2 linked regions of the Homo sapiens genome follow. The protein of the gene in region 2 interacts with the protein of the main gene of each other region in a biochemical or structural test. Each region holds a gene or a part of one and is shown on either strand. Other genes may lie near its edges.

Evidence for each region.
Region 1: the proteins of FUNDC1 (region 2) and USP19 form a complex in vitro, tested with the Homo sapiens proteins (one study listed by BioGRID).

What each region holds. Positions count from the first base shown.
Region 1 is NC_000003.12:49,114,075-49,117,985, forward strand, and holds part of USP19 (ubiquitin carboxyl-terminal hydrolase 19), read right to left. Parts: coding exon 3,873-3,911; intron 3,757-3,872; coding exon 3,583-3,756; intron 3,497-3,582; coding exon 3,363-3,496; intron 3,288-3,362; coding exon 2,985-3,287; intron 2,870-2,984; coding exon 2,653-2,869; coding exon of another isoform or gene 2,647-2,652; intron 2,534-2,646; coding exon 2,377-2,533; intron 2,278-2,376; coding exon 2,206-2,277; intron 2,089-2,205; coding exon 1,973-2,088; intron 1,871-1,972; coding exon 1,650-1,870; intron 1,566-1,649; coding exon 1,370-1,565; intron 1,288-1,369; coding exon 1,154-1,287; intron 1,044-1,153; coding exon 885-1,043; intron 800-884; coding exon 689-799; intron 211-688; coding exon 100-210; intron 20-99; coding exon 1-19. UniProt on the Homo sapiens protein: Deubiquitinating enzyme that regulates the degradation of various proteins by removing ubiquitin moieties, thereby preventing their proteasomal degradation. Stabilizes RNF123, which promotes CDKN1B degradation and contributes to cell proliferation.
Region 2 is NC_000023.11:44,536,128-44,540,038, forward strand, and holds part of FUNDC1 (FUN14 domain-containing protein 1), read right to left. Parts: intron 2,416-3,911; coding exon 2,340-2,415; intron 1-2,339. UniProt on the Homo sapiens protein: Integral mitochondrial outer-membrane protein that mediates the formation of mitochondria-associated endoplasmic reticulum membranes (MAMs).

The sequences.
Region 1 (3,911 bases), on a different chromosome or scaffold from region 2:
TGCTGACGCTCACCAGGAACTGTGGCAAAAAGGGCAGTCAGTGAGGGAGGTGGGCCACGTTCTCTAGAACAGCCCAGAGGGTAGGGGCTTACTCCTCACCTTGATGGGCTTGCTGTGGGGCTCTCGGGCAAAATAAAAGACAGGGAGAACCTTTTGCTTTTGTGGCAAGGGCACCGGCAGATAAAGAAACGGGTCAAAAGTGATGGAGACCTGTGGATGTAGAGGTGGCACTGGGTAGCTGCACACAGAGTGGGAGATAAGATGCTCATGCTCAGAGAGCCCATTCCGGGGCTTCTGATGGCTCTCAGGGCCCCCACAGCCAACCAGCAAACTCTCAGGCTTCAGGACACTAGACAGGGCAGGAGGACCACCAGGAAATAACAATCCTTCTTTCTGGCACTCAAAGCCCTACTCAGCTTAGCCACTTTACGAATTGGCCTCACACTTGCACCCCATGTGCCCACAACCCTGCTACAACACCTTTGAGCTCTAACATCACTTTTCCCTCAGTCAGGAAGCCTACCCTGAGTGGGCTCTTCAGCCCAAATAGAATCCTAAGGCCTCCCTGCCAGCTTCTTTGCCCAAACCTTGCCCTGTAGCACCTTAAGATGCACATGCCTCTGAACCTAATGTGACCAGAATAGCTGAGCTGAACTAGGGGGTCTCTTTCCAGGGGAGCCCATCACACCTTGGCACACACAGGGCACACCAGCTTCGACTTGTACTGCCCCTGAAATAGGTCCACGATGAAAGAGTCATTCCTCATCTTGTGCCGCTGCCATGCTTCCTCAGCTACCACCTGAGAGGCAGAGTGGTGAGAACCAAAGAGTACCAGGGGCTGGGATGCTCATGAGACATGCCCACCCTCTGTCCCTAACCCTGACCTCATCGGGCCGCCCATCTGAATCCACGGTCTCTGTGTAGGGCTTGTTCTGAATGCGATTCAGGTCCTCGTGCAGCCCATCCAGCAGGAAAGCCATGAACTCCTGGGCATCATGCTGTGCATAGCCTGTGAACTGGCTGGCCTTACTCGCCACAATGGCCTGGATACAGGAGCCAAGGTGTGAACATGAAGCCCTAGCACCCACTGCACACCCAGCTGGCTGGCCCTCCCCGCCCCCTCCAGCCAAGGGTGACAGTGGTCACAGATCACCTTCAACTTGGAAGGCTGGAAGGCATGGTGGGTGCCCTTCCACAGCGCCCGAAGCAGCACGGCAAAGCCAATGGCCAGACGCCCACCAGTCCCTAGTGGGTTGTTGTAGTTGATCTCAGCCTCAAAGGAGCGGTCTAGGAATAGTAGCCGAGCAAAGGTGTGAGGAACAAAGGCACTCTCTCTGCCCATAACCCAGGCTCCAGGCCCTGCCCTCACCATGGAAGAAGTCCCGGAGTTCCCGAGTGTTGGACAGAGACTGAATGACGCTGTTCATGAAGCAGGTGTTGCCTAAATTGACAAGGCCAGTGAAGCCTGGCAGACACACCTTCTTCTCTTCCTCTTCCTCCTCCTCCACGCTGTCTCCACTAACTGGGCTGTGGGGCATGGGAGGCACCATGCATGTAGGCTTGGGCTGCAGGAGCAAAGACGACATGAGAGAACAGCCCCAAGACTCTCCAGCCTCCATTCTTCGTCCTTCCCACCCCAGAATTCTCACCGAGGCCAGGTGTGTCTCTGGCTTTGGGGTTACATGCTCCATGGGTGTGCGGGTTGCCACACTGTCTAGCCCTGTGTCCTCAGATCGTGCCTTGGATTTATCCTTCTCCACAGCCCGGGCCTCCTCCTGGCCTGTCAGGGGGTGGGGAGCACCTCCTGGTGGGGTTGAATCCAGAGGGGTTGGACCTGTCGGCACGGCAACCTTTGCACCACCCACTGCACCTTAAAAAGGGGGAATGAGAGGGCTGGTGGTTAGCAGCATGTGACAGGGGTTTGGGTCCTGGTCACGTGGAACTGGGCAATGAAGGGAGCTCGTGTGCAGACCTCGTGCAGCCGGGGCCTCCAGGCCCCCCCAGCGCTGACTCTGCCTCTTACGAAGGCAGATGTCGATGCGAGAAGCCGTGAAACAGAAGGTGCACTGCTCTGGCTCAATCAGATTCCTGTGGGAAAAGGCTGAACTCAGGGACTTAGGAGGAATGAGCATCAGGATAGATGAGCCAGGGAGATGGAGCCCACGGGGTAGGACAGGCACAGTGGTGGGGCCGGGCACCACCCACCTGAGCTTCACCTGCCAACGGAAGGTGGTGTGGGGCCCACAGCCCGGGTGCAGCCTCAGGAAGTTTCCATCCCTGCAGAGGCACAGCAGGATAGGAGGAAGGACAAGAGGAAGAGCATGAGACATACTGTCCCACCTGAGGCATTGTTTGCCCCATCATCTACCCACCCACCTGGTCTGGAAGATGAGCGTGAAGTCCTGCTCACGGAAAAGTACTCTTGAGGTGTCCCTGCAGATCTCCTTCACGTACACGTGCACCACCACTGAATCCGGGCCCTTCTCATACGAGTCATTCTTGACAAACGCCAGGTTCACCATCGACTCGGGCTCTATATTGAGACCATGGCTCAGCCCCAACCAGGACAGGTTCCAGCCTATTGCTACTCTCTATCCACCTACAAACTTTGCAACCCAACCTAGGGCTCTGCCTGCCCACCCCCACCTTTACCATCCACCAAGGTTGCAGCATCTGCTGCCACTGCCATCTCCTCCTTGGCACAGTCATCTTTCCCAGGGTTTCTGCTCCGGACCATGGCTGGAGAGACTGGGTCATTCCCGGGAGGCACTGCTTTCTCTCCTGCCAAAGGGGCTAAATTCTCCTCTGAGCCCAGGAGGCAGGTTTGGGAGTTCAGCGGTGGTATGCAAAGCTGTTCATCAGCCTCAACCTATTAATGGCAAGATTGTGGAAAGAATCAGCCCTGGGTCTGCCAGGTGGCTCCCACTCCAGTGCACACCCTTTCCCCCCATCTCCTAACACCCAAACAGGTGCCCAGCTCTCACCTGGGTGGCTGGGTCAGCCACGAAGGGTGGGGCATCACCCCGGGGTCCAGGGTCATCCCTGGACCCGTCCCCCTCTGGCCCTCTGCAGAGATGCACAGCCCTCTTGGCGCTGGGCCCTGCCTGGGCCCCGGGGCCAGCCCCTGCGCCTACCTCACCACGGCCCTGGGCCCGCTTCTGGTTCCGGGCCTCCTGCTTAGCCCGGTGGGGCTCAGGGCCTGGCTCCAGGGCAATGGGAGACAGTTCCTGCCCATTCTCCTGGCACCGCAGCCCCGGCACCAGCTCCTGGGTCCCTAGAGGTTTCTTCTGCCAAAGATACAGCAGTCAGGCCCTGTCGACTACACTGGTATCCCTACCCAACCCTGTACTACTAGAACTCACCAGGAGGGAGGGCCACGTGAGCATAGGCACCTTTTTGGGCAGTGTCAGGTGCAGGAGACTGCCCTTGCGGGTTTGCACTTTAGCACAAGAGCTTTTTATCTCAGCATAGAAGACACCACCCCACTGCTGACCACCTGGGGACAGAGCAGGGTCCATGAGGTAGGATAGGAGATATCAGAAGATTCAAACATACTACTGTGCTCAGGGCAGATGGACACACCTGCAAACCGCACCACACAGTCTGTATCTGTGAAAGCAGCATCTACATCCTCCAGCTGCAGGGGACCTACTCCCACACGAAGCTTGACAATCACCTCTTCTGCACTCTGCCTCCAATCGAGCAACAACTCTGGAGTGGGAGTAGCCAAGAGATCATGAGGGTCTTCACAAGCTCCTGATGGTGATAAGCAGGTAACAGAGACCCAGCCTAATGAAACTGCTTCAGATGGGAGCCAAATTGCAAGTGCCCCCTCCCCTTCCCTAGCAACAAAAAGCCCATTCGTTACTGACCCTCTTTGGTCTGCTCCTCTTGAGGAGTGGATGCTGACC
Region 2 (3,911 bases):
ATGGTGAAACCCCATCTCTACTAAAAATACAAAAATTAGCGGGGTGCTGTGGCAGGCAGCTGTAGTCTATAATCCCAGCTACTTGGGAGGCTGAGGCAGGAAAATCACTTGAATCCGGGAGGTGGAAGTTGCAGTGAGCCAAGATTGCGCCACTGCACTCTAGCCTGGGCGACAGAGCGAGACTCTGTCTCGAAAAAAAAAAAAAAAAAATCCCAAACTTCCTAGTAGAAATAATGGCCAAAACCTTCCCAAACATGATTAAAGACATAAATTCACAGGCTCAAGAAGTTCAGTGAACTCCAAGTAATCAATCTCAGTGAACTCCATATAATGAATGATCTAACACAATTATGAAAAAAGGGAAGTAACTACACTCAGACGATTGAGGGAGAGGGAAGAAAGCATTCAGGTATGTGAGATTTGGGGAAGTATAGGGAAAACAAAACAGGTCAATAAATGACAGCTAAATTTTCCCATTCCATAATGGGAAGCCAATAGTTCACACCTAAAACTGAAAGATCAAGAAATGTCCAATTAACTTGTTTAGGGAAAAAGAGATTACTACCTTAAGAATCAGTTAAGAGTGCAAACTGGATGTCTCAAGGGATGGAAAAATGGGGGTAGTGAGAGAGGTGGAGGATTACTCTAATCTGTAACAAGCCTTGCACAAGTACTTGGCCCTTTGAATTATAAGGATGTATAACTCCAAAAAATTAAAACGAAGAGACTGTGTACTTTAAGATGGCAGTGTAATAAATATCTATTGGAAAACACTTGATATTGTTACTAGAAAAGCTTTAAGTTCTAAATAAACTAATATTTACCTTTAAATATAAGAAAGGTCATAAAAATATGAAAGTGGGCCTAAAGAATATTAGGCAATTAGCCTAAAAGCCATTTGTTACTTTATTTCCCCTTTCACTTTCCTTCTACTGAGTTTTCAAGGTTAGTCGTATTTGTGGGAAAAACTGGTTTGATGCAGATAGGTCCTATGTTGCTCTGCCTTAAAAACTTCAAAGACTACGTGTACTAAATGCGGAAAAGTGGGAGGTGGCAATGACAAAATGTGGATTTGAATGGTGCATATTGAGTGAACTGAAATGGACTTCTGAAAAACTGACATGCAGAGTGGATTAAAATATACACTTCTCTCCATTCTGTGAACATTTTAGGAAACTCTGCTTCAGTCCAGTACCCTTTTACACTAACAGAAATGACAACTGAGTCTTCAAAATAGCTATGGAATAAAATATGCTCTTGATTCCATATAAAACCAAGTCAAAATCAGCTTAAGTAAAATTATCATCTGTACTAATGCTGGCATATTCATCCAAAGAACTAAATTTAGGTATTAATCATTTTTTTTACCTCTTACCACAAGTAATAAGCAATTATTCGTAATAATGTCACCAAAAGAAAGAAAACATATATATTTTTAAAAGGCTGTTTAGTGAACAACTCAAAATCTGTGCTTCATACATACAAATCTAGTCCCCTTGTACTACAACTACACTAGTTATTACATGATCGATGGCTTAGGTGCTGAATTCAGATTCTGGTGGCTATGAACATCAATCATTTTTAAAATCTAGTACAAGTGACAGTTCTCTGTATCTTTAAAAGTGCTGCTCACATTCATTCGTAGAGATTTTCAATTTTTGGATTTACTATATTTGATCTTCAAGGAATGATATTTTTGAAAAAATACATGCCAAACAGACATGAATGCCAGATGATGCCCTGATAAACATCCTCTAATGGCAAAGCATTTTTAGATCTTATACTTACAAGAATATGAACAAAACTAAAACTTCAAATCTATCTGCCTCAGATATAAGATTATGGATTTTTGTTTTGTTTTGTTTTGTTTGGAGACAGAGTTTTGCTCTTGTTGCCCAGGCGGGAGTGCAATGGCACGATCTCGGCTCACTGCAACCTCCGCTTCCTGGGTTCAAGCAATTCTCCTGTCTCAGCCTCCCAAGTAGCTGGGACTACTACAGGCGTGCACCACCATGGCAGCTAATTTTTGTATTTTCAGTAGAGACGGGATTTCACCATGTTGGCCAGGCTGGTCTTGAACATCTGACCTCAAGGGATCTGCCTGCCTCTGCCTCCCAAAGTGCTGGGATTACAGGCGTGAGCCAATGCGCTCGGTAATGGCTGTCTTTTTAATAGCTGGGATCAAACTATGCTTAATAACTCAGAAGTATTTAAATTGTTATCTTTCAAGACAAAAGTCAGCTTCCAAAACTCATTGTAGCTCTTCCATAAACTGATGCCTAAAAGAAAAATTCCACCTTCTATGAAAGCAAAGGCAAGTGCTTAAAGCTCTGACATACCTGAAGAAGAAGAAAGCCACCACCTACTGCAGTTGCTGCAAGTTTTCCAACTTTCTGGAACAGAAATCCTGCACACCTTTAATCAAATAACAAAAGATGAAAACAATCAATTATGTACTAAACCCTCTCCCTCTTCTACTTTTCATTGCTTTCCTAATAAAATCTTATGTCTTTGCATTTCTTTTGATCACATCCCTTACCTGCTCAGAAACCTTCTCAGAAACCCCTCAGTTATACAGGCTAGTCAAAAATGCACAATCTAAAATGTCTGAAATTTGCTTCAAAATAAGGGACGGAGAGAAGAGGAGGAGAATTTATAGAAAAAAAAGAGCAGCTACTAAAATAACGACAAGTACTCAGGGGTTCATTATATTCCTCCTACATTTGTATAAGCTGAAACCTCCCGTAATAAAAGTGATGTTTTGCTTAATACAGTCAAGATGGTCCATACACCTGGTTGACCCCCACCTTCGGCTCCAACCCCATTAACCTCCAAATAGGTCATCACCTTTGCTCAAGCTATTAATCTCCCTGCTTCTAGGGGTTTCTTCCTAGCTCTACCTATCTAAAGCTTTCCTACCATTCCTACCCTTTCAGGTCCAGCTGTTGTTCCACTCAATAACTATACTTCAGCCCACATTTCTAAAGGCCTCCTTATCTATATCTACCTATTTTTATATTAAATGTTTTTTGTGTCTCATCTACCCTGTGTCAGCTCATACTTCTTTTGTCATTAATTCGCTCCTTCAGTGAGCTCACATTCCCTTCAGCATTCCAGATCCACACTGTGCAAATGAATCCTATATTTCTAACTCTAGCCTTCTGCACTGGGTTGAATGGTGTCCCCCTCAAAATTCATATCCTTCCCAAAACCTCTAAATGTGACCTTATTTGAAAACAGAGTCACTGCAGATGTAATAAGTTCAGATGAGATCATACTGGACAGGGTGGGCCTTTAATCCGATAAGGACGCACACAGAGGGAAGACGACATGTGAGGACAACAGAGGCAGAGACTGGAGTAATACGTCTACAAGCCAAGGAATGACAAGGATTGCTGGCAACCACCAGAAGCTAGCAGAGAAACATAAAACAGATTTCTCCCTCTGAGCCTCCAAGAAGGAACAAACCCTGTTGACATCCTGATTTCAGACTTCTAGCCTCCAGAACTGTGAGAGAATAAATTTCTGTTATTTAATTTAATTAATTAATTTATTTTTTAGATGGAGCTCGCTCTGTCACCCAGGTTGGAATGCACTGGTGCCATCTCAGCCCACTGCAACCTCCGCCTCCCGGGTTCAAGCAATTCTCCTGCCTCAGCCTCCTGAATAGCTGGGATTACAGATGCCCGCCACCACACCCAGCTAATTGTTGTATTTTTAGTAGAGACGGGGTTTCACAATGTTGGCCAGGCTAGTCTTGAACTCCTGACCTCTGGTGATCCACCCGCCTCGGCCTCCCAAAGTGCTGGGATTACCAGTGTAAGCCACCGCACCTGGCCTCCACAGTTCTATATATTTTATCTCCAAAACATTATTTGACTGTCTTCTCCTTTCCACTCTCAAGGTCATCA